Homo sapiens: one gene and its partners. The protein of the gene in region 1 interacts with the protein of each later gene in a biochemical or structural test. Each region holds a gene or a part of one and is shown in the gene's direction. Other genes may lie near its edges. The genes, in order: ROCK1, SMAD5, CDC25A and MYBPH.

Region 1 (7,036 bases):
ATTGATATAAATTTAATAGTAGACCCCACTGATGCACAAGTTAAATTAGAAATACAGTATTTCTTTGCCTAGGAGATTTGTATATTTACTGAAAATATTACAGTTTAAAAAAATTCTCAGTAAAAGAAATTCAAATAGTGTAGAAAATTATGAAGAAAGGATATCTCCATGTAACTCTTCTGAATAATTATGTTATAGTCATTTTGCATATACAAGGGTCTTTGTGGCATTTATGTTTGTCTTTTTTTAAAACTAGACTTGCAACTTCTGTAATTTGATTATTTTACTTAAATCTTTTATTAACATTTTTGCCACTTTTTAAGTGAAACAATTTTGTTTAACATTAATGAATGTGTTTTGTTTGTTTTTTCTATTTGTATAGCTTTTTTATGCATTCCAAGATGATCGTTATCTCTACATGGTGATGGAATACATGCCTGGTGGAGATCTTGTAAACTTAATGAGCAACTATGATGTGCCTGAAAAATGGGCACGATTCTATACTGCAGAAGTAGTTCTTGCATTGGATGCAATCCATTCCATGGGTTTTATTCACAGGTAAAGATAAAAGTGCTTTAAATTTTCTCATTTGTTGAGGGAAATAGCTAAAAATAACTTTAACATTTCTTACTCTCAGTTCACCCATTCTTCTTCCGTATGACATAAGTGACCTTTCAGAACTCAAGACTCTGGCCAGGCGCTGCCTCACGCCTGTAATCCCAGAGCTTTGGGAGGCCGAGGCAGGCAGATCTCTTGAGCTCAGGAGTTTGACACCAGCCTGGACAACATGGTGAAACCCATCTCTACAAAAAAAAAAAAAAAAAACACAGGTGTGGTGGCATGCACCTGTGGTCCCAGCTCCTTGGGAGGCTAAGGTGGGAGGATCGCTTGAGCCTGGGAGCAGAGGTTTCAGTGAGCTGAGATCTAGTCACTGCACTTCAGACTGGGTGACAGAGTGAGATTCTATGTCAGGAAGGGGGGAAAAAAAGAACTCCAAACTTTGAAGTTTATAATTTTAGCATTTCAATTTAATGTTGATATAAATGTATTCTTTAATATCCCTTAATCTGATCATATAGCCTTTAAATGGTGTTCTGAAAAGTAAAACTTGTAAACTAGTTTTCTAAGGTATGTGCCAGGAGTTAAACACTTTGATGTTAATTTTTTAAATATGTAACTTAATTTGCTTTTAATTAGTGAATAGGTCGTATTTATTCATTAGACGAATAGTTTCATTTGTTGTACAAACACTGCTTGAATCCTGTGTGCAGTTGCTGTGCCTACATGTCAGGGATCAAAAATGAAAGTGACTTAGACCCTGCCGTGGGGTTTTTTTATGTACTTACCTATCTAATATGTTTCAATCACCTTTTATGTCTGAGTGTTGTATTTTTGATGGTCTGTCTCTCTCAAATGATTTGATTTTCCCTCTGAAAGAATGAAACTTTTAAAAAAGGAATATATATGTTTTCTTCTGAGGCATTAACATATAAAGAAGTTTCTTTGATGAAATTTAATTTATAGATGTGGATAGAGAACACATACAGATCAAAGATGGCCTTACCTAGATTGAGGATGCTTGACCTAAAATAACTGCCTCATATAATTTTTACAGTGTCTAATCTGTTTCAGAAAATACTGTACTATTTTTTCCCTCCTGCAGAGATGTGAAGCCTGATAACATGCTGCTGGATAAATCTGGACATTTGAAGTTAGCAGATTTTGGTACTTGTATGAAGATGAATAAGGTTAATTAACTAGATTTTAATTTAGTTTTTGCTAATTCAAGGTAGATGCTTCTTTAGAAAATGGTTTAAGAATTCTTTAGAAAATGGTGTAAGAATTTACTAACCATAGCTGGACTTGTCCAGAATTAATATGACCTTATTTGTTGAACTAGATACCATGGTTTCAATGTTGTATTAGTAACTTGTTAGTGATTTATTTTTTCCTCTCTATTTAGGGTAAATATGGATTGCCAGATTTACTAAATCCTTCATAACAACTCTAATATACACTACTGGTAACTAGGAATGGAATTAGCTTAAATGTCACTAAATACTTATGCCAGTGTTAAAATTAGACTTTCATAAAAATTGGATTCCAGTAATGTGTGTATTTTTTAGTGTTTTACTTCAGTTAACATATAAAAGATTTTACTGCTTATTTTAGGAGTGAGTCTTAAAAGATACCTATCCTCACTGTTTATATAATAAATAACATATACACAGCTGTATATGTATATACATATTATGTATATGTATATACATATACATTATGTATATGTATATACATATAATAAATAACATAAATAAATATGTTATTTATATAATAAATAACATATACACAGCTGAAGGAGCTGAAGGAGCTGTGTATATGTTATTCCTTCACTTCATATACACAGTGAAGGAAACACTGCATGAGAACTTCTGTATGAACATTTAGTTATAATGCTGTTTCATTAATACCAGCGAATATAGGTAACAGCTAACAAGTCTCTCAGGTTTGTTGGGGGAGGGCAGTTAAAATTCACATCAAATAGACATTCAGTGTGCTTTACACTATTATGCCCTTTTCCCATACATATGCTTCCCCAGTTTGTATTTGTACAGTCAGCTTTTGTATGTTTCTTTTGTAGTTTCAAACATAGTTAAATAGCTATTTTAGTAGAAAATAATGAAGTCAGTGTTTATACCAATATGTTGTAAAATGCCCTATCCTATGAACTCCCCAGTGTATTTGCACTGGCCTGTGTACTTGTTCTCAGCAGTTAAATGGTTTCATGATATTGGCACAACTTGGGGAATAATAAATGTGGCAGTATGTTTTTCTAGTGAGCATTATTACAAAATAATCACTGGTGTGTGTATATATGTGAATACACATATAATGTGTGTGTATATGCATTCACATGTATACACATACATACATTATATGGTATATATGTATATGGTGTGTATATAGTATGTATATATATGATTAAGCTGTGTTAATTTTTGTCAGGTTTCCATTCAGTTTTAATATATGATATTTTATAGCTCAAAGATTTGGAGTCCCATAGGTAATATTAATAAGAAAGTCATTTTAAATAATTGAGACTTTATATCCTAATTCAAAATTTGACCTGCCGCGCTTTTTAGGAAGGCATGGTACGATGTGATACAGCGGTTGGAACACCTGATTATATTTCCCCTGAAGTATTAAAATCCCAAGGTGGTGATGGTTATTATGGAAGAGAATGTGACTGGTGGTCGGTTGGGGTATTTTTATACGAAATGCTTGTAGGTGAGTAAGGAAGATTTTATGTCTCTCTATTACAGTTGTTCATCTCAAAACTTGCCACTTGGCTCTTTCTAATATATTTATTATATTAAGCAATCTTGATTTTATTTGTGGGTAATAAACATGATCCAAACCTGCTTCGTATGTGTTTTTAAAAGCATTTAGAGGCTTAGAGCAACTTTGTGATGTGTTCTTTTATATATTAGGTGTATGTTTTTAGTTTAATACATACCTAATAATCTTTTTAAACGGGTAACTTTGACTCTTCCTTTGAAACTGACTTTTTAAAAATGTATTTCATTTTGCTTTTGTTTTCTTTATCAATTTTTCAGGTGATACACCTTTTTATGCAGATTCTTTGGTTGGAACTTACAGTAAAATTATGAACCATAAAAATTCACTTACCTTTCCTGATGATAATGACATATCAAAAGAAGCAAAAAACCTTATTTGTGCCTTCCTTACTGACAGGTAAATAATTTTAAAACTGAGCCTGTATTAATTCTGAGGACTTCTCATCTTCTGCTCCATTTTTAAGGTCCATATCTGAGCTTCTACATGTAAATTGTTAGAATATAAATGACAGTGAAACCTGATGTAATTTTATGATATTCTAGATGTCTTTTGTAGATCTCAACTCACTTATCATACCTAAGAAATTGTGATAATAATACAGTCTTGGCTGATGGCTAAACTAGATGACTTTTTTCTTTTATTGTTCAATTTTTAACTTGGTTAATTATAAAAATTACTGTGTATTTTACTGAATCTAAAAAAATTTTTTAACATAACATCTCTGAAATTAGAGTACATCTCACAGTCAATGGTATGAGTTGGGAGCATCCTTTTTCATAGTGGTATAAAAACGGTGATACACCTTATACTTTAAACCATTTTAGATTTGATGATGTATGGTATATGGTTGTTGAAAGAGTCAATAGTATAAAGCCATTTTTAAAAGTATACTATCTTTTTTCTTCTAGACATAATAGTTGGTGTTCCATCTTGTAGATCCAACAAGCATTTTAATAATAATGTCTGTCTGCATTTTTGAAAGAAAAATGGCATATTATATATACCTTTGTGGTTTACTTTTGAAATTTGAAAGTGAACCAGATGTATTAGTAAGATTATATTTAATGTTTATGATTGTATATTGTTAAATATTAGGGAGACCTAGTACTTTTAAATATGTTTCAAGTTGAGATTTGCTTTAACTTGTCTCCCTTCATTATGTCCTTTAGAGCTTGAAGTATGGTTTTTCAAATGTTTACTTTTTTTTTTTTTTTTTTTTTTTAAATAGAGACAGGGTTTTGCTCTGTTGCCCAGGCTGGTTTCAAACTCCTGGGATCAAGTGATCCTCCCACTTCAGCTTCCCAAAGTGCTGGGATTACAGGCCTGAGCCACCCATGCCTGGCTAATTTTTACATTGATTGATTGATTGATTGAGACAGAGTCTCACTCTGTTGCCCAGGCTGGAGTGCAGTGGCATGATCTCGGCTCACTGCAACCTCCACCTCCCGGATTCAAGTGATTCTCCTGCCTCAGCCTCCCAAGTAGCTGTGACTACAGGTTCCTGTCACCATGCCTGGCTAATTTTTGTATTTTTGATAGAGAGGGTTTCACTATGTTGGCCAGGCTGGTCTTGAACTCCTGACCTCATGATCTGCCTGCGTTGGCCTCCCAAAGTGCTGGGATTACAGGTGTGAGCCACCGCACCTGGCCAATTTTTACATTTTAATATAAAGCATTGTATTATGCTGTTTATTAGGTGCTAGGGATATAGTAGTGAGGAAGATACAGAGCCACTTTTCTCAAATACCTCATAGTCCTTTGGGGGAATTAGATAAGCAAATCAGACATTTATAGTACACACAGCTAATTACCATGAGATAAGTACCATGTGCCGGAGAACCATGGAGAGGTTTTCTAATCCAGTTTGAGAGTTAGTGAAAGCTTCTTGGAAAAATTGTCACATGTCTAAGCCAACTTATCTTTTAGCTTATGCAAAAACTTAGAATTTAGAGTATTTTCTTTATTTATAAGCACTGTACTAGGGAAAAAAGGTGCTAACTTTCTTTTTCCAATTCAGCTAAAATCACATTTTTAAAAACTTTTTGCTCACCAAAAAAGAGGCTGGTATCAGTAACTTGTCCAGTGAAAGCTCTGAATTCTGTGGCAGTATCAAGAATTAGTAGTCATTGGCTTTTGAATGGTCAGAAATAATTAATAGATTATAAATTGGAAGTTCAAAATTTTAAATGTGTTTCTGGAGGTTTTTGGTAGCATCTGGTATTGCTGCCTAAGTAAAGTTTTGGTTGGGGAAAAAAAAGCCTAACTTTACCATTGTAAGAAAAAAATAACACACACACACAAAAAACTGTCAAGAAAATGCATGGTGCTTTATTCATTTTGCTAATGAAGTAAGGTGGTGATTAATCTGGATTTTTGTTGTCAGTAGAAAAGTCATGGGTGTTTTTTGTAGTTATTCTTTAGTTTTCTTTTTTTTGAGACGGAGTCTCGCTGTGTTTCATCCAGGCTGGAGTGCGGTGGCGCAATCTCAGCTCACTGTAGCCTCTGCCTCCCGGGTTCAAGCGATTCTCCTGTCTCAGCCTCCCAAGTAGCTGGGACTACAGGCGTGTTCCAGTACACCCGCTAGTTTTATATTTTTAGTAGAGATGGGGTTTCACAGTGTTGGCTGGGCTGGTCTCGAACTCCTGACCTCAGGTGATCCACCCCACCTGAGCCTCCCAAAGTGCTGGGATTATAGGCATGAGCCACCATGTCCAGCCTTTCTTTAGTTTTCTTTTAAAAAAATTCTTTAATGTTCTCAATCTTTAACATATTTTCTATTTGGGCTGATACTATGCTGACAATATAATTTCACCTTAGAACTATATTTGTCGTCCTACACTGATTTAATATCCTGCCCACAAATAAACCTGGACAGGTTATAATAAGATCTTAAATGATTGATTACTTTTCTCCTTCTGTCATTATTCAGGGAAGTGAGGTTAGGGCGAAATGGTGTAGAAGAAATCAAACGACATCTCTTCTTCAAAAATGACCAGTGGGCTTGGGAAACGCTCCGAGACAGTAAGTTTTTTTTTTTCTTTCATATTTTAGTGAATATTTGAAAGTAGTTGTGGTAGTTTGTTGAAACTACATTGCTAAATATTTGTGTGTATCTGATGAAAATCAGAAGCCACAAATACTATATGGGAATTGTCCTAACCTATTAATTTGATAATATTGGGCAGATTATATTGTTACTCCTCTTATGTCCCACGCAGGATACCCAGATGAAATATAAATGTAATGGATTTAGGCTCACCAGTCATAATTTTACATTTGATCTTTGTTGAATTGTTCATTTTAGGCGTTAGTTATCTTATTATGGAGGTGGTCAATAAGTAGTAAGTAATGAGATTAAAATATATGTTTTTGTGAGAAGACAAGTTATTCTCTTGTTTTTATTAAAACCCAAAATATAAGAAGGTTCTATTATTAATTCCAGAATTCAATTTAATTTTATTTATGAGTTTATAGGATATTGTGATATACTTGATTCCATCAGGCTTTTGCAGCTGGCAATTCAGAAACAAAAATGTATTGTATAAGAAACTAATTTTCAGTCAGTTTAGAACACTTTCTTACTTTTTAAAAAAAGTTAAAATTACAAGATGATTCACAGAAAACTCTACAACATAGCTGAATCAAAATTATCATGACACCAAAGGTTCTCATCATCTTC
Region 2 (5,425 bases), on another chromosome or scaffold:
GAGGGCATATACAGTGAAGAGTAAGTTTTCCCTCCTACTCTCGATCTTCCAGAAGCTGTACTTTTACCAGTTTCTTTGTCCCACCAACTTAAAAAAAAAAAGTACAATTCATTGTTTTGCAAAAGTGTATGGTAGGGGCTTAAAAGAAACTATAAAGTTTTATTTGAATGAACACTATGCACTGCTGTAACTGGTAGTGTTCAGTAAAAGCAAAATGATAGTTTTCTAGATGACATAAAATTTACATTTAATACAGATAAGTGTTCTTCAGTGTAATGTGACTTCATGCTATATATCTTTTGTAAGACATTTCCTTTTTTAAAAAAATTTTTGCAAATAACTGATCTCAAGTATATGTCATTTACTCAAAATCTGTCATAAGCATTACTTTATAGCTAGTGACAGTGCATGCACAGCCTTGTTCAACTATGTTTGCTGCTTTTGGACAATGTTGCAAGAACTCTATTTTTGACATGCATTAATCTTTTATTTTGCACTTTTATGGGTGACAGTTTTTAGCATAACCTTTGATAAAATACACTCAAGTGACTTGGACTTAGATGCTTATCCTTACGTCCTTGGTACCTTTTTTGTATTAACAAACACTGCAATTTATAGATTACATTTGTAGGAAGTTATGCTTTTTTCTGGTTTTTGTTTTACTTTCAACCTAGGTTATAAGACTGTTATTCTATAGCTCCAACTTAAGGTGCCTTTTTAATTCCCTACAGTTTTATGGGTGTTATCAGTGCTGGAGAATCATGTAGTTAATCCCATTGCTCTTACAAGTGTCAGCTTACTTGTATCAGCCTCCCTACGCAAGGACCTATGCACTGGAGCCGTAGGAGGCTCTTCAGTTGGGCCCCAAGGATAAGGCTACTGATTTGATACTAAATGAATCAGCAGTGGATGTAGGGATAGCTGATTTTAAAACACTCGGCTGGGCACAGTGGCTCACACCTGTAATCCCAGCACTTTGGGAGGCTGAGGCAGGCAGATCATGATGTCAGGAGTTTGAGACCAGCCTGGCCAATATGGTGAAACCCTGTCTCTACAAAAAATACAAAAATTAGCTGGGCATGGTGGTGCGTGCCTGAAGTCCCAGCTACTCGGGAAGCTGAGGCAGAAGAATCACTTGAACCTGGGAGGCGGAGGTTGTGGTGAGCCGAGATCGCACCACTGCACTCCAGCCTGGGCGACAGAGCGAGACTCTGCCTCAAAAAACAAAACAAAACAAAACACTCACCCATCAACGAATATAGACTCTTCTCTCATTTATCGATGATCCTCTTTTTCCATTTTTTAAGTACTTATGTGGAAGCTAGTCTCCCAAAACACAATCTTTAGAGAGAAAAGACATGAACGAACTCCAAAATATCCATTTAATCAATCATGTTTTTGGCTTTGGATAAAGAACTTTGAACCAGTTTTTTTCTCAGGAGCTGTCAAATGGACACTTAATTATGACATGAGAATGAAGAAATTATTTTGGAAAAAAAAAATGACCTAATTTACCTATCAGTGAAAGCTTTATTTTCTGGTGCCTTTTGAAAGTATATGGAGTCATATCATTCTTCTGTTTAAAATGTTAGTTTGGTTTGACTTTCCACTTTGTCCTTTCTGCTCTTGTGAAGAAAAAAAAAAGCATTTTCGAGGAAAGAATTATGCAATTTCTTTTGTTTTCTGTGTCATTATTTATTGCTTTTTCAATGTGCAGCCAGTGGATGGTTTTAGTTCTTTCAGATGAACTGCCATTTGTGTTTCAGCTCACAGTTCTTTGCTGGGTAAAAGAAATACTTTCTGACAGTCACCTGAGCCTTAAATGTAAGTATTACATGACATGCATTCTGTTTCTTCCAGAGTTCTGTCTGCCACACGAAAGAGAATATTTGCTTACTTGATAGAACTTTGGCATTTTCATCATTCTTTTACTTAACCAGGCTTATGGCATGATCTCTGGAACAAATTTGTAGGAAAAAATTACTCCAATTGAATGACTGATGTATGTAATCAACTTCATTGGGCTGCAGTAAACTAGTGGAAATTAGAGAGTTGTTTTATTGGTGTTTTCTACTGTGAGTTAATTAAAAATTGTTTTTATTTGGGGTCATTATGTCACAGTCTTGAGTTAACAAGATCTTACGTGATTGGCCTTTTCTTTGTTTTCTCTTAGGAGTTGTGTCTCATGAATGACAGTACTAAAGCTATTAACAACTAAGAGTTTGACAGAGAACTATAAGCCTGTTGTATCTCCTAAAAGTTGTCAACTCCCCACCCTTGGACTTTAAATGAAAATTTTATTCAGTCCAGCTATTCTTACAGTCCCTAAGGATTTTCATATATCTATGTATAGGAGATAAAATTTGCTAGTAAGATTTTTAAAAACTGGCTAGTGAAAGGAAAGTACCTCTGAAAGAAACCATTTTAGCAAATTATGGTTATATGTTTTAATTTAATCTACAGAATGTTTTATAGTAAAATTCTAGCACCACTAGAATAATCACATAGCATGTACAATATATTTATGCTGGCTGAAAAGACAGAATCTGGGAATAATAAAATTGCAACCAGTTTGGTAATGCAAACAGCAGAATAGAATGAAATCTCAGTAATGAATTAAAGCAACAAAAAGATATTGATTGGCAAAAAGCAAGATATAAGAGATTCATTTGCTTAACATTTCTACATAATATTTATGGTCTGGTCAGTATTGGTCTGGTCAGTATTGCCTGGCTGACGTGAAATGTAAACTAGTAGGCGTGTTATTGATCTGCTAAAACTAACCCTCTTTTTAAGAGGAGATTTAAGGAAGACGTCAATCAAAATGTCAAATATGTGTGTCAGAATATAAATAATTTTTCACATTGTATTGTTGCTATATAAAAAAAATAATAGAATTGGTTGGGTTTCTGAGGTGAAATCCAGAGTAAGAGTACTAGACAGTTCAACAAGCCACATCTAATGGCACAGATAGAGGATGTAGCTATTTTATACCTTTCATAACATTTGAGAGTAAGATATCCTTCAGGATGTGAAGTGATTATTAAGTACTCATACCTGAAATCTGTTGTCAAGATTAGAACTGGGGTTCATGTTAAAAACCTTCCATATTACCTGAGGGTACCTGTGGGGAACAGTTCCTTCCCCTGTGTGGTAGTATTTTGTTGGAAGAGAATGTTTATACAAAAAATGAAATTCTTCCAACAGCAGAGAAACTCTAAAAAGTTTGATAGTACCTATCAAAGTGCTGTACTTCTGTGATAGAGAACATCTGATGTACCAATTTAGATCTATTTCTTTATACTTTTTCTAATCAATTGCTTAATAGTACTTTGGATGATTATCACCTTTGCCACTTAAAATATATAAATATCCTTTTTACTTCATGAGGAAGGAAGAATTTTTTGATAATTACTGAGTTCAGCCTTTTGTGATGACTTATATTTTGGACTTACATTTTAACTTTAAAGAATGTCAGATCCCTTCTTTGTCTTACTAGTTAAATCCTCACCTAATCTCTTGGGTATGAATATAAATGTGTGTCATCGTTATATTGTTCAGCTAGATGAGCAAGTATCTTAGGGTAGTAGGTAGCCTGGTGGTTTTAGAAGTGTTTGGTGATTTTTATGGAGAGAGTTTTCCTAAGTGGTGGTTTATAGGTGGTATCAGATATTATTAGGGCAGCTTTTTGGGGAGTAATCTCAGGTCTCCCAGAGCAGCAGCATTTTTCTCATTGATATAAGTAAGATTCTTAGGAGCTTTTCTTATCACACAAGATGCCTGAATCGAATGTGAGAATTGAAGGCATTTCTTCTGCATAAACAAAGAATTCTACCTGCTGGACAGAAACCTGGAAAGTTCTTTGGAATTCGCTGAATTACAGTTTAGTATGTCCTGATTACAGAGTGACAATATTTATCAAGCCTTTGTTATATTGGATTATCTTCTCTCTTAAAATACAACTGTATTATAATTGAAATGACAGCCCAAAATTGGATGGTTTACCAAAACCAATGAAAGGGATTTCACACATCAATTTTTATTTCTGTTTTGAAGAGCACATGCTATATAATAATTGCTAGTAGCAACTGCAGTAAAACAGGTGATAAGTTATTTTCTCTGAAAAGATCCAGTCCTAGAGCAGGATTCTTCGATCATTCATGGCAGAGTGAAAAAGGTTTGTATGGTTCTTGTCCAAATAACTCAGTTCTTAAAATTCTTAAAATGATCGTAAACCATTATCCTTTAAAGGTTTATTTGAAGATGCTGTTAAAGTACAGAATTTTGTGTACAGGTAGATTTTTCCGTCCCTCATTAATAGTGCCTTCTTAATTAATACAGACTGGTGTTAGCTATAACAAAACTCCAGTAAGGCCAAAGAATCCCAAGTTCTTTGTGGAAAAAAAAAAAAAATCTTTTAGGGTCAGATTTTCCCTTCTAATATCATTGAAGATGATGTTGCATTGATTTATTCATAAAGTATTTTAACTATAGGAACTCTAGAAGATAATGGTTAGGCAAGTGATTTTTTTTTTAAATATGGTTGGCGTAAGTTGTATTTTGAAATTCACTTATTTTAAAATCGAAGAGGATTGTAATCATGGAAATAGAATGTTTGTATCTACCTGCCCACATTTTCTTAAAAAGATATTTCATATACAGATAATGAAGACCAAGCTAGTGGCTGCACTGTAGGTCTGCTGCTTATTTGTATTTGTTGTGCTTCTGTTTATGTTGTAGAAGCTGAAATTCTAGCAACATGCTTCAATTCTGTTATTTTGATACTTATGAAAATGTATTAGGTTTTACTATATTGTGCTTTTGAAAGCCATAACTCTTAAGAACTTTGTTTTTGCATATTGTTTGCTAATTCTTTACTTTAATAAACCTCAAAACCTGCTTAATGTGTCTTTTTTTGTTTTGGCTCTGGAGTTGGCCTGCCTGCGTTTGAGTCATGGGCCTCATAGCTTAGACAAGTTGCTTAACCACTCTATGCCTCACTTTCCTGACCTGTAAAGGAAAAGTCTACTTCATAGGAAGGATTTGAGGGAAGATTAATTGAAGTGTAATACAAATACAGTATTTAGAACAGTACTTAGAACATAAGAACTCAAATATTAAAATTGTTACTATCTTTTACATTTCCACTAGTTCTTTGATTCAGAATAATTACTTCTTATGTTGCTTGACCTCGGTGTATCAACCTTTGATGATCCACTTTGTGAATTTACAATTTTTTATTTCCTTTTGTCTTCTTTTTTGAAAAAATTTTAAATCACAGACTGACTTTGCATCATTGTCACTGTGTTGCACACTTTTACCAACCTCTGAATTACATATACAAGACATGCAAACTCATTCTAATTAGAAAGGAATGGTGAGCGAGGCACAGTGGCTCAGGCCTGTAATCCCAGCTTTTTGGGAG
Region 3 (7,036 bases), on another chromosome or scaffold:
CAGAGATCACGCCACTGCACTCCAGCCTGGGTGATAGAGTGAGATTTCATCTCAAAAAAAAAAAAAAAAGAATATTCATTTTCTTTTTCTTTCTTTTTGAGACACGCTGGAGTGCAGTGGCAGGATCTTGGCTCACGGCAACCTCCGCCTCCCCAGTTCAAGCAAGTCTCTGCCTCAGCCTCCTGAGTAGCTGGGATTACAGGTGCCCACTGCCACGCCTGGCTAATTTTTTTTGTATTTTTAGTAGAGGCGGAGTTTCACCAAGTTGGCCAGGCTGGTCTTGAACTCCTGACCTCAGGTGATATATCCGCCTTGGCCTCCCAAAGTGCTGGGGTTACAGGTGTGAGCCACTGTGCCCGGCCAGAATATTCATTTTCTTTTACCGTAATAGAGATTGACCTTTTTATTTCCATATTTGTAAAACTTTTTTTGGATAAAATAATACTGTTAATAATTATTTTGTATATATATTGGCCCTCATGTTTTGGTTTATTTTCATATATTTTAATTTTTAGTATTTTAAATTCCATTGTGGAGAAAATGTCAAGCATTGCTAGAGTACAGTTATCATACCTGTGATATTGTGAAATATATATTTAGTCTTCTTCCCCTTCTGTCATATAACTCCTAAAATCTTTGGAATATCCAAGGTCATATCTTTTTGTATACTAATGATTGATAGCTTCAGGGTGGGACTGGTCACTGGAAAGACAGAGACATGATTAGAGGTTGGAACTTTCAGCCCCACCCTCCAATATCTACGGAAAGGAGAGGGGCTAAAGGTCAAGTTGATCACTCATGGCCAATGGTTTAATCAATCATTTCTATGTAATGAAGCCTCCCTAAAACCTTGAAAGGACAGGGTTCAGAGAGCTTCTGGATAGCTGAACACATGGAGGTTCCTGGAGGTTGGGGCACCCAAGGAGAGCATGGCAGCTCCATGTCCCTTCTCCCATACCTCACCCTATGCATGTCTTCTTCTATATCCTTTGAATATCCTTCATAATAAACTGGTAAATGTGTTTTCTTGAGTTCTGTGAGCCACTTCTAGCAAATTAAACCCAAAGAAGGGGTCATGGGAACCCCTACTTAAAGCTGGTGGTCGTAGATCAGAAGATCCAGAGGCCCAACTGGTGTCTGAAGGGTGGTGTGGTTTTGAGGACTGGGCCCTCAACTTCCTGATCTGACGCTCTGCAGGTAGATAGTGTCAGAATTGAATTGGACGGCACCCAGCTATTTTCCACTGCAGAACTGCTTGCTTGCTTGCTTGCTTGCTGGTAGGGAGAAATCCCCTCATATCTGGGGGTAACAGCACTTCTGTCTTCTGTTGCTGTTGAGTGAGGGAATAAGAAAAATCACTTTGAGTTTGTGGGGTGTTTTCCTCACACAAACATATCATACAGGGCTAAATTTCTGGGTGTTTTTTTGTTTGTTTTTTTTTTTGAGACCAAGTCTCGCTCTGTCGCCCAGACTGGAGTGCCATGGGTCGATCTCTGCTCACTGCAACCTCCGCCTCTCAGGTTCCAGCAATTCTCCCGCCTCAGCCTCCCAAGTAGCTGGGACTACAGGCGCCCACCACCACGCCTGGCTAATTTTTTATATTTTTAGTAGAGACGGGGTTTCACCATGTTGGCAAGGCTGGTCTCGAACCCCTGACATCAAGTGATCCACTCACCTCGGCCTCCCAAAGTGCTGGGATTACAGGCATGAGCCACCACGCCCGGCAGAGCTAAATTTCTTACTATCAAATGTCAAATATCCAGTCTGGGTTCAGTTTTCCCCAGTTGTCTCCTAAGTACTTTTACAGTTTATTTGTTAAAATCTGGATCCAAATAAAGTCTATACACTGTAGTTGGTCAATAGGTCTCTTACTCTTCAGATTTCAGTGCTCCATCTGTTTCCCTCTTGCATATTTTTATTTGTTGAAGAGCTCAAGTCATTTGTCCTGCAAAGGTTCCCACAGTCCTGTGGGGTCTTCAGACATTGTCTTCTATCCCCTATATTGCCTTAACCTAACTCTGGAAAGGATGGATTGAATTCCAGTTCTATTTGTTTGGCAAGAATATCACATAGGTGATTTTGTCTACTTTGATCAGGAAGTATAATGTGCCAGGCAGCCATTGGTGATTGCTGCCCAGATTTTTTACTTCATTTCACCAGGGTTTCAGAAAGATGATACTGCAGTTTTTACATTCTTTCCTCATTAATTAGCTAGAATATATCTATAAAGAGAAACTTACACTCATCAAACACTGTGGTTACCCTTGGGAAAGGCAGGATGAATATTGGATCTCTTTATTTGCCAGTTTCCAAATAATGCCCTACCAAGCATCTTCCAAAGTTGAAAGCAAGACTTATAGTTGTTTTTCAATAATAATCAGGAATTCATGGGTTAAAACATTTAATGTGTTTCTGTGTATTACAAGTATTATCCTTTTACTCAAATTATCCCCTTTTTAACAGCTGGCTTCCTCTTCTCATTGAATAAAGCTAAGACGTAGGCCGGGCGCGGTGGCTCACACCTGTAATCCCAGCACTTTGGGAGGCCAAGGCAGGCAGATCACCTGAGGCCAGGAGTTCAAGACCATCTGGCCAACATGGTGAAACCCCGTCTCTACTAAAAATACAAAAATTAGCTGGGCGTGGTGGCGCACACCTATAGTCTCAGCTGCTCTGGAGGCTGCGGCAGAATCGCTTGAACCTGGGAGGCAGAGGTTACAGTGAGCCAAGATCACTGTACTCCAGCCTGCACTCCACTCCTGTACTCCACTGCACTCCAGCCTGAGCGACAGAGCGAGACTCTGTCTTTTTAAAAAAAAAAAAAAAAAAAAGTTAAGACATACTTTTTCTAAACTTAATCCTAGTTTTAACCCCCCTTGTTTCTTTCTCTTTTTCTGGAGATAGTTTCAGTCTGTCACCCAGGCTGGAGTGCAGTGGCACCATCACCACTTGCTGTAGCCTCGACCTCCCCAGGCTCAGGTGATCCTCCCACTTCAGCCTCCCAAGTAGCTGGGACTACAGGCACACACCACCATGCCCAGCTTGTGTGTGTGTGTGTGTGTGTGTGTGTGTGTGTGTGTGTGTGTGTGTGGACAGGGTCTTGCTCTTTGATCTGGTCTGGAACTCCTGGGCTCAAGCGATTCACCTGCCTTGCCCAGGCTGGTCTGGAACTCCTGGGCTCAAGTGAGTAACCCACCTTGGCCTCCCAAAGTGCTGGGATTACAGGCATGAGCCAAACCACCTGCACCCCCTTTTTTTTTTTTTTTTTTTAAGGAAGGAAGGAAAACTTAGTTTCAGAGCAATTCGGTTAGACACTGGAATAATAGGAGACCTAGTCAATAACCCACATCTGTTTTTGTTCACTCCAGATTCAATAAAATAAAATAAAAACTTCTTACTAAATGTAGGCATTAACATTTTAGTCTCCTCGAGACATGCTCCAAGTGAATGTTTTCGGAAGTTCCATTCAGAACCCTTGTCTCATTCTCTACCTTTGATTTGTTACAGACTCTTCATCAGTCTTTATCCCTGGCATCTTCCCCCAAAGGAACCATTGAGAACATTTTGGACAATGACCCAAGGGACCTTATAGGAGACTTCTCCAAGGTAATTGCAAGCAGAGCTGCTCTGGCAAGTGTAGGAGGGAGTGTGGGTATTTAGAATCCCACTCAGCCTGTCTCCCTCCCCAGGGTGGTTCCTGGCATACCTCCAAAAGGACACAGTTAAAAGAATGTTAAAGGTAGGGAAGCAAACTTAGTTTCTCATGATCAGGTATATGTTGGTTTCTGAGACTGTAGATATCACTATAGCTGATGGGCAGTTTTAGGTAGGGAGCTGTCCACCAACCACCTTGATTGTAACCCAAAGACTAGGCTCTCTGGGAACTGTGTTATTATAAAAATAGTAATTAGCAGGATAGTGTACAGCAGAAATAAATCTGTAGCCACACTACAAGTCTGCATGTTGAAAGGTTATCTTAGAAGGTCTGGGATTGAGACTGAATTTCTCCGTTCAGAGAAGCTTGGCCATTGAGGGAAAAGACCCTCCAGGAAGTCTAGAGGAAGATCTTCTAATAGCCTGATATACTACATGAAGGCTTGGCTGCAGTAAAATACAAGGCTAGGACAGGGAATGTGTCAATAGCAGCTTCTTTAATCACATTTTGACTTGAAGGTTACCAGATCAATGTTTTATTCATTAATTTAGTTAACATTTATTGAAGCACTTATGTGTTAGGCAGAGATTCCAAAATGAGATACAGTTCCTTCCCTCAAAGAATTTAGCATGTGGTTGGAGAGGTGAGACGTGAACTACATGTACCACATGGTAGACTGAAATAAATTTTAGTGAGGTGTAAACATAAACAGCATGCCGTGAGAAGTAAAAGGGTTTATCTTGGCTAGGGGGTTGGGGAACGTCTGGGGTTGGGCCGTTGATATTTCAGCCCAAATGGGTTTTGAAGGAACGGAGAATGAAGAGAACAAGCAAAGATCCAGCTGTATCCTCAGTTTTGGAACCTTCTCTTGTTTGGCAGGGAGAGATGTGGTCTTACTATGTTGCTCAGGCTGTAGTGCAGTGGCTATTCGCACATGCTATCATAGTACACTGTAGCCTCAAACTTATGGCCTCAAGTGCTCCCCCTGCCTCAGCCTCCCAAGTAGCTGGGACTACAGGCATGCACCACCACACTCAGTGGAATTTTCAACTTGAATTGAGGCCTGGTTATATTTGTCTTAATGGGCCTATGCATGGGGATAGATGAACTCTTGGCTCAGCCAGTCACCCTAATGAGTAATTGCTAATGTGTGCATCTTCCTCCTCAAGGCTGGGCTAGGTCTCTTTTTTTCCTATCCCCAGTGCCTGGCACCATGCTGGACATAGCAGGTGCTCAGTAAATGAGTGAAATCTGTATGTTTAAGTGCTATTCGCAGTCTAACTACTGACGTGTGGATTCTTGACAAAAGCAGGAGGAAAATGAGATTACCTGAGGTTTCTTTATTTAAATCTGCCTTACTAGCTAGGTAACCTTGGATAAGGTGCTCAAAATGGGGATAATATACCTCATTGGTTTGTGTGAAAATTAAATGTCAGGATGTTAATGAAGTAACTAGAAGAGTAACTAGTGTGTACTAACTAATGTTTGTTTGCTTGTTTGTTTGTTTGTTTTTTGAGAGGGAGTCTTGCTCTGTCACCCAGGCTGGAGTGCAGTGGTGCAATCTCAGCTCACTGCAACCTCCGCCTCCTGGATTCAAGCGATTTTCCCACTCCAGCCTTCCGAGTAGCTGGGACTATAGGTGCATGCTAACGCCCGGCTAATTTTTGTATTTTTAAAAGAGTTGGGGTTTCACCATGTTGGCCAGGCTTGTCTCGAACTCCTGACCTCAGGTGATCCACTAGCCTCGGCCTCCCAAAGTGCTGGGATTACAGGTGTGAGCCACCGTGCCTGGCCATTAATGTTTGTTTTTTAAAAGATGCCTCCTACCAGCCAGACAAAACAGTATAAGTGTGAATAATATATAGGCTTTCAGATTCTCTAAGTATCTTTTTTTCTTTTTAAGGGTTATCTCTTTCATACAGTTGCTGGGAAACATCAGGATTTAAAATACATCTCTCCAGAAATTGTAAGTCCATCCTTTTGAAACCCACCACACATCGGGTACTTGAATCTAGTTTTCCCTGACGGTCAAAGTTGATTCTCCCTAATTTTCTCTCAACAGATGGCATCTGTTTTGAATGGCAAGTTTGCCAACCTCATTAAAGAGTTTGTTATCATCGACTGTCGATACCCATATGAATACGAGGGAGGCCACATCAAGGTATGGATTCCTGAGACTTGCTGTAGAAGGAGCCCTAAACAGGATCTGTGGTTTTAAAGTGGGGAGGACAGTGACACCTGGCCACTTAGCTCATATGCTAGTTGTTAGAATTTTGAAACAATACAGTGAGTGTGGAAGGCATTTGATTCCGGGTGCTCTTAACGAATGTTCCCTTGTCTGCAATACTCTCTACCACCTTGTGCACAGTTATTCTTCATGTTTGTCCCTCACACCATCATTATCAAGGACACTTGTAGGAGGTACCCACTGATGTTTAAGTCATTCGGGGGACAAGAATGGGTTTCATAGCATTTAAGAGGCTTGGGTACCAATGTCTGAGCACCCCAGGGCTCCTGATGAGGAGAAGACCATCTCTGGCAACATGTCCTGGTGTCTGTGCCAGGCCTAGTGATGCCTCCAAAGTTGATTGTTCAGCAAGCTGCCTGGTGGAGGGGCGTGTTGGGACACACGTTCCCAAGAAGAAAGGAACTGATTTTGCCATTTTAATCTTTTTTTTTTTTTTTTTTTGAGACAGAGTCCGCTCTGTCGCCAGGCTGGAGTGCAGTGGCATGATCTCGGATCACCACAACCTCTGCCTCCTGGGTTCAAGCAATTCTCCTGCCTCAGCCTTCCAAGTAGCTGGGACTACAGGTGCACGCTGCCACGCCCGGCTAATTTTTTTTTTTTTTTAGTAGAGACGGGGTTTCACCATGTTGCCCGGGCTGGTCTCAAACTCCTGAGCTCAGGCAAACCGCCCGCCTCAGCCTCCCAAAGTGCTAGGATTACAGGCATGAGCCACGGCGCCTGGCCTGCCATTTTAATGTTTTACCCGATTAATAGTGTTTAAATATAGTAAGGAGGTACTTTAAATACGATGTTACTGTTTGCCATTGTCTTGTGGCTTTTGAAAATCCCCAAATTTATAAAACTACCTATAAAGTGTACCATTGTCATATTTGAATTGCCCATTTCCAGTCCCCATGTGCATTACTGTATGATGAACGTGTACGGACCCACAAAGCTCCATTGAGATACAGGTGCCAAATGGTCTACTGGGCTATTCAGCTAGAAGAACTGCAAAAATCACAAACTGGTCTTGTGGACTTAAAGATCACTCTTGATGAATCATTACATCTTGCTGAATCATTACTTCATGTGTGAAACGTGCAGGTTCCAAGGGTCTCTGTTGTCTTCACAGGGTGCAGTGAACTTGCACATGG
Region 4 (5,552 bases), on another chromosome or scaffold:
GCATGCCACCAACCAACTGCTGCCACCTGTTTGCTGCTGAGGAGCCTCAGTCATGGACCCAGCACCCACCCCAGGGGACAGGGATGGTGGCCACTGCAGCTTCCCTTAGAATGCCCAGGGGCTTCAGTGGTTGCCCCTGACCAGATGAGGGTCAGAATGTCATTCCTTAGCATAGCAGGCAGCTGAAATAGGACTTCAAGAAGGACTTCCCGGCTCTGAGACTAACAGATTTTGGGAGGGTGACAGAGGAAGAAGGGGGGATACCCGCCCTGGCTTCACTTGGGAAGAGAAAGATCCTAAACCTTTCAATAGGGCCTGGAGACAGAGGAATGGACAAACAGGGTTTCACAAAGGCTTCTCTGAAAGTCCTGGGCTTGTGGAGAGCTGGGGATATTAGAGCAGGAAGACGGCAGTGGCCTCCCCTTCCTAGAAGTGCAGCCTGACAGGTGCAGCACCTGCTCCCCAGCAGGGGGAGACAGAGAGTCAGCTGGGGCCCATCTGGTGCTTGGGAATGCCTGGGCTGCAGGACAAATCCCATCCTGGCAGAGTCGAGGCGCCAAGGGAGTGCCCAGGATGCTTACCAGTTCACACCATGGAGGCGCTGACCTCCTGAAACCTCCTGCTCCCTTAAGGGATTTGGGCCCCTAGACCTCAGGAGTGAGAGCTTCACCCTTCCTGCAAGGAGGGACCCCATGGCAGCCAGGCACACCCAGGACCCTCCTCCCAGCCAGCATCCCTCACCAGCTGTCCCCTGCCCCATCTCAGAAACCCCAATCAGCCACCCCACTGCACTGCTAAGCCCAGACTCTTGCTTTGATCCAGAGGCCCCCAAGATCCGTGTCCCCCGCCACCTCCGTCAGACCTACATCCGCCAGGTGGGAGAGACGGTCAACCTGCAAATCCCCTTCCAGGTGGGTATTACCCCCACCAAGGGTAACAGCCTGGGTGGGAACCAGGGCCCCCATTTAAGGGGAGCCTGGGAGATGGCAGGGTCTCCAAGGGTCCAGCTGAGACCCAGCGAGACGGCTTCATCCTTCCGCAATCATGCACATGACTCATTGGTGATTCTCAGCCTGTGGATGGGCAGGTGGGCCCCCAGAGCGGGATGGACACCTGGAAGATGTGGCTGTGGGCAGCACCTGTGGCTCCAGCCTCTGCTGCCCCTCCTGAGAAGGGCCAGTGGGACAGGCTTCCCCGAGAACAGCTCCAGAGACTCCTGGAGTTAAGGAGGTGTGGGGACTCTGGCACCTCCCTACACTCACCCTGGGGGCTCCTCCCTGCCAGGGGAAGCCTAAGCCTCAGGCCACATGGACCCACAACGGCCATGCCCTGGACAGCCAGCGGGTGAGCATGCGCACCGGGGACCAGGACTCCATCCTCTTCATTCGCTCGGCCCAGCGCTCCGACTCTGGCCGCTACGAGCTCACTGTGCGCGTGGAAGACCTGGAGGCCAAGGCAGTCATTGACATCCTGGTGATTGGTATGGAGCCAGGGGAACAGTGCTGTCTCATGGGGGACCTGGAGCCCCCAACCTCCTATCCCAGAGCTGATGGCTGATGGGAGCAGGCCAAGGGAGTGTGGCAAGAGCCAAATTTTGGGTGTGGGGGCTCTGTGGCCAGCCTGGCCCTCACACTCACTTCCTCTCACACTCTGGGCCTACAGAGAAACCTGGACCCCCCAGCAGCATCAGGCTCCTGGACGTCTGGGGCTGCAATGCTGCTCTTCAGTGGACGCCACCCCAGGACACAGGCAACACAGAGCTCCTGGGCTACATGGTGCAGAAGGCAGACAAAAAGACAGGGGTGAGGCTGGCTGAGGCAAAGTGGGGTCGGGGTACGAAGTGGTCAAGGTGGTGGGGAAGGCCCATCCCACTGAGTCTAGGGACCGAGTCTAGGGATCGAGTTCTGGTCTGCCCACTGCTAACCTGACTCCCTAGGAGGCCCTTAGCAAGACTCTTCCTCTCTGGACCTCAGATGCCTCCTGAAGACTGTGAAGAGGGCTGGCCCGGGCTGTCTGAAGCCTTTCAAGTTCTGGAGCCATGCTTCTCAAATCTTAATGTCCACATGAGTCACCTGGGGAGCTTGCTAAGAGGCAGAGTCTGACTCAGTAGGTCCAGGGTGGGGGCTGAGGGCCTGCATTTCTAAGACGTTTCCAGGTGATGCTGAAGTTGCACATCCATGGGCCACACTTTGCACACAAAGGCTCTAGGATTCTCTGAGGACCCTACAGAGGTCACCTGAGTGACCCAGGGGCCCCTTCTTCCAATTCAATGTCCCTGAGGCCCAAAGCTGGATGGTTCAGCATCCTAAGGTTGGGGGCATGGAATGAGTTCCTGTGAGGAAAGGTCTCCAGGGTAAGCAGGGAGGGTGAGGACAGGGGTGAGAAATGAGGGTGACACCCGGGGCCCTGCAGCAATGGTTCACAGTGCTGGAGCGCTACCACCCAACCACCTGCACCATCTCTGACCTCATCATCGGCAACTCGTACTCCTTCCGGGTCTTCTCAGAAAACCTGTGTGGACTCAGCACCTCGGCCACCGTCACCAAGGAGCTCGCCCACATCCAGAAGGCAGGTGGGTTTGGGCCCGGAGCTGGCTGTGCTAACTCTCTCCCTGTCTCTGCTTCTTCCTCCGCGTCTCTGCACCCCTCTCTCTGGGTTTCTCCTGGGCGTCTGCCCCTGGAACACTTGCCGTCTCCTCACTCCACGGCTATGCATACACACACATGGAGTGGCTGCAAAGTAGTGAATGTGGTTGGCTGATTTTAACAAACACATCAGAGCAAATCCACACAAATGAAAGATGCCCCTTTGGAGGCTGTGTGCTTATTCCAAAGAGGTGTGTGGCTGCCAGCATCACAGCAGCCGCCGAGTCTCAGGCAGTGAGTGTCCGAAGGGAACCTAAAGGGTGACCTGCGCATGGCTGGGTAGTGTGCTAAAACAAGCCTCCCAACCCTAATACATACCACATAGATGGACAAGAGAGATAGGAGTATTTACTGTCTCCACACAGGCACCTGACCTTCTTGCGTCAAATGTTAAACCCCGGGCCCTTTTCCCTGTCCCTTGTGTGCCCCAAGGCCCTCTCCGACCCACAGTCTGTGTGGGTTCCAGAAGGCAAACTTTTTTTAACACTAGCCTGAACTGCACAGAATTAGGAAGAAACTTTTGTTTAAAAAAAGAAAGCCAGTCAAGTCTCCAACGACAAACCCAAAGGAAACGTGGCACCTCTGAGTTGCTAGCATCCATCTTCTGCCAAGATGCTCTTATCTCTGGTTTTTCCACCTTCTCATCTCTACTCATCACCCTGACCCACCCAGCTACAGTCTCAGCTTTCTCTGCCTCTTTGAGATTGTCCAAGTTCCTGCAAATAAGCCACGACTTGCTATCCATAGATCTTGAATCATAGTCAGTCCTGACAGGTCTCCCTCACTCCTGTAAGCTCAGATGCACCCGACTTTCTCCCCTGAACCCAGATATTGCTGCCAAACCTAAAGGGTTTATTGAGCGAGACTTCTCAGAAGCCCCCTCATTCACCCAGCCCCTGGCTGACCACACCTCCACCCCTGGCTACAGCACCCAGTTGTTCTGCAGTGTCCGAGCTTCACCCAAGGTGAGGGGCCAGGCCCTGTTGTGCCCTGGGCTGGTGGGGGCAGGTGGGGACAGCAGGGCTGAGGAATCCTCCGGGCGTCCACACCTAAGCCTGGGGATAGCTGTTGAGAGCCCCGCCCCAGTCCATACCTCCCCAGCTCTCTTCTGACCATGTCTCCCAGCCCAAGATCATCTGGATGAAAAACAAGATGGAGATCCAGGGCAACCCCAAATACCGCGCCCTCTCTGAGCAAGGCGTCTGCACCCTAGAGATCCGGAAACCCAGCCCCTTTGATTCTGGGGTCTACACCTGCAAGGCCATAAATGTGCTGGGGGAGGCATCTGTGGACTGCCGGCTGGAGGTCAAAGGTGAGAGTTTGAGGACGGGAGAACAGGAGTAAGCACCTCTCTGGAACTGGACTAGAGGCAGCAGACAGCTTAAAATCAAGGCCGAAGAGAAGGGGTGGTAAGACTGGGGTCAGGCTGTGCTGATTACTTTCCAAGCGGCAGGGTGGACAGGTGTAGAAGAGGGTGTATAACCGTGAACTTTCCAGTTCCCCGCCACTTCCCCCAAGCTCTAACTGCAGCATCTCTTCCAGCCTCAGCCGCACACTGAAGTCACGGGAGGAGGCTGTGATGAGGAGCCAGGTAAATGGCCTGACCCACCCACTCTGTTACCTCTGTGGGCAGCACAGAAGCAGAGAGGAGGCCAGGAGCAGGGGGTTGGGGTGAGAAGGGAAGGTGGTGGTCAGCTCTGTGGACACAAACTTGTGGACACAGGCAACTAGCACGCATGTCCAGAGACTCACAGTGATGTTGCAGGGCCAGGCGATGCCGGTGTCTCCTGGAAGGGGGGTGATTCCGTGGACCGCCACACAACCAGAGTCTACTCCCAGCTCTGAGTGATCTTCAGCAAGGGTGTTCTCTTTGGACACATTCTCTCATCCGAAAACTGGGGATAACAACCTTTCCCTGCCTTCCTTCCCCTGGTGGTTCTGAGGCTCTGCATAAGTACGGAAGTATCTAGAACTGCAGTGGGCAGAGCTCAGACCTGGGCATTGCACCTGAGGGAGGGAGGCCTGGTGAGGAAGAGGATGCTGCTCCCCCTCCCCACTCTGCACCTCTCTGGCCTGCAGCCGAGCTCTGCTCACACCAGGGGCTCAGGAAGCATGTCCTCCTCCAGGTGCTGCAGGCCTGAGGGGCCAGGTCCACCAGGCCTACAGTCAAACTCCAGAGATGCCCAAGACCCCCGCTTCCATAGCGACGGCTGATGGAACCGCCCCTGGTACCTGCTGGCCTCCCTTCCCCAGAGGCTGGTGTCCAGAACTCAGGAATGGGCCTGGTAGGCCCCAGGCCAGACTAACTGGGCTCAAGGGGTGCTGGAAGGCGCAGAGATTGGAGTGCCCTGCGGAGTTGCACTCTGGGTGGGAAGCACTCAAATAAAGATGCGTGGTGTTAACAGTGCGGGGCCTCTGTGCCAGTGAGCGACATCATCTGGGGGAGGCGCTGTGTCACGAGGAGGGGGGGTGTCTGAATGTTTCACCATGAGGGGGTCTCCAGATATGTCACCAAGAGGAAGATGCCAATGGGAGAGGTCTCAGGATGTCATGGCTGGGGCAGGGAGGTGGGGGGATGGGGGGTGTTCTGGACCTGTGAGTTTTCAGGATCTCCCTTTCTGATCAGGGTTTGCTACCGCCAGTGCGTAACTATGGAAACAGACACACCCTCTCTGGAACCCTCCTTGCTCCAACGCCTCCACGTGCCCCCTCTCGCAGCTCCTCCCAGCCCCCGTCATTGCTTCCTGTCTGCTGAAGCTGTCTTATTGCCCTCAACAGTGGTGGGGATGGGCGCCCAGCAATGTGCTCTCCACAGGGTTCACAGTTTTTTATTAGTCACATGGGCCTCCCTTGGGAGCCAGGGCACACCCAATTTCCAACAGAGGGAAGGGCTTGGAAGCAAGTCCT

What was found.
Region 2: of the proteins of ROCK1 (region 1) and SMAD5, one has a biochemical effect on the other in vitro, tested with the Homo sapiens proteins (one study listed by BioGRID).
Region 3: of the proteins of ROCK1 (region 1) and CDC25A, one has a biochemical effect on the other in vitro, tested with the Homo sapiens proteins (one study listed by BioGRID).
Region 4: the proteins of ROCK1 (region 1) and MYBPH form a complex in vitro, tested with the Homo sapiens proteins (one study listed by IntAct).

What each region holds. Positions count from the first base shown.
Region 1 is NC_000018.10:21,038,814-21,045,849, reverse strand, and holds part of ROCK1 (rho-associated protein kinase 1), read left to right. Parts: intron 1-382; coding exon 383-558; intron 559-1,663; coding exon 1,664-1,748; intron 1,749-3,140; coding exon 3,141-3,285; intron 3,286-3,614; coding exon 3,615-3,753; intron 3,754-6,286; coding exon 6,287-6,378; intron 6,379-7,036. UniProt on the Homo sapiens protein: Protein kinase which is a key regulator of the actin cytoskeleton and cell polarity.
Region 2 is NC_000005.10:136,177,835-136,183,259, forward strand, and holds the end of SMAD5 (mothers against decapentaplegic homolog 5), read left to right. Parts: 3' UTR 1-4,899; downstream 4,900-5,425. UniProt on the Homo sapiens protein: Transcriptional regulator that plays a role in various cellular processes including embryonic development, cell differentiation, angiogenesis and tissue homeostasis.
Region 3 is NC_000003.12:48,164,416-48,171,451, reverse strand, and holds part of CDC25A (M-phase inducer phosphatase 1), read left to right. Parts: intron 1-3,507; coding exon 3,508-3,606; intron 3,607-5,558; coding exon 5,559-5,621; intron 5,622-5,717; coding exon 5,718-5,816; intron 5,817-7,014; coding exon 7,015-7,036. UniProt on the Homo sapiens protein: Tyrosine protein phosphatase which functions as a dosage-dependent inducer of mitotic progression. Directly dephosphorylates CDK1 and stimulates its kinase activity. Also dephosphorylates CDK2 in complex with cyclin-E, in vitro.
Region 4 is NC_000001.11:203,167,311-203,172,862, reverse strand, and holds the end of MYBPH (myosin-binding protein H), read left to right. Parts: intron 1-822; coding exon 823-911; intron 912-1,284; coding exon 1,285-1,480; intron 1,481-1,662; coding exon 1,663-1,802; intron 1,803-2,412; coding exon 2,413-2,572; intron 2,573-3,473; coding exon 3,474-3,610; intron 3,611-3,770; coding exon 3,771-3,957; intron 3,958-4,187; coding exon 4,188-4,204; 3' UTR 4,205-4,236; intron 4,237-4,771; 3' UTR 4,772-5,052; downstream 5,053-5,552. UniProt on the Homo sapiens protein: Binds to myosin; probably involved in interaction with thick myofilaments in the A-band.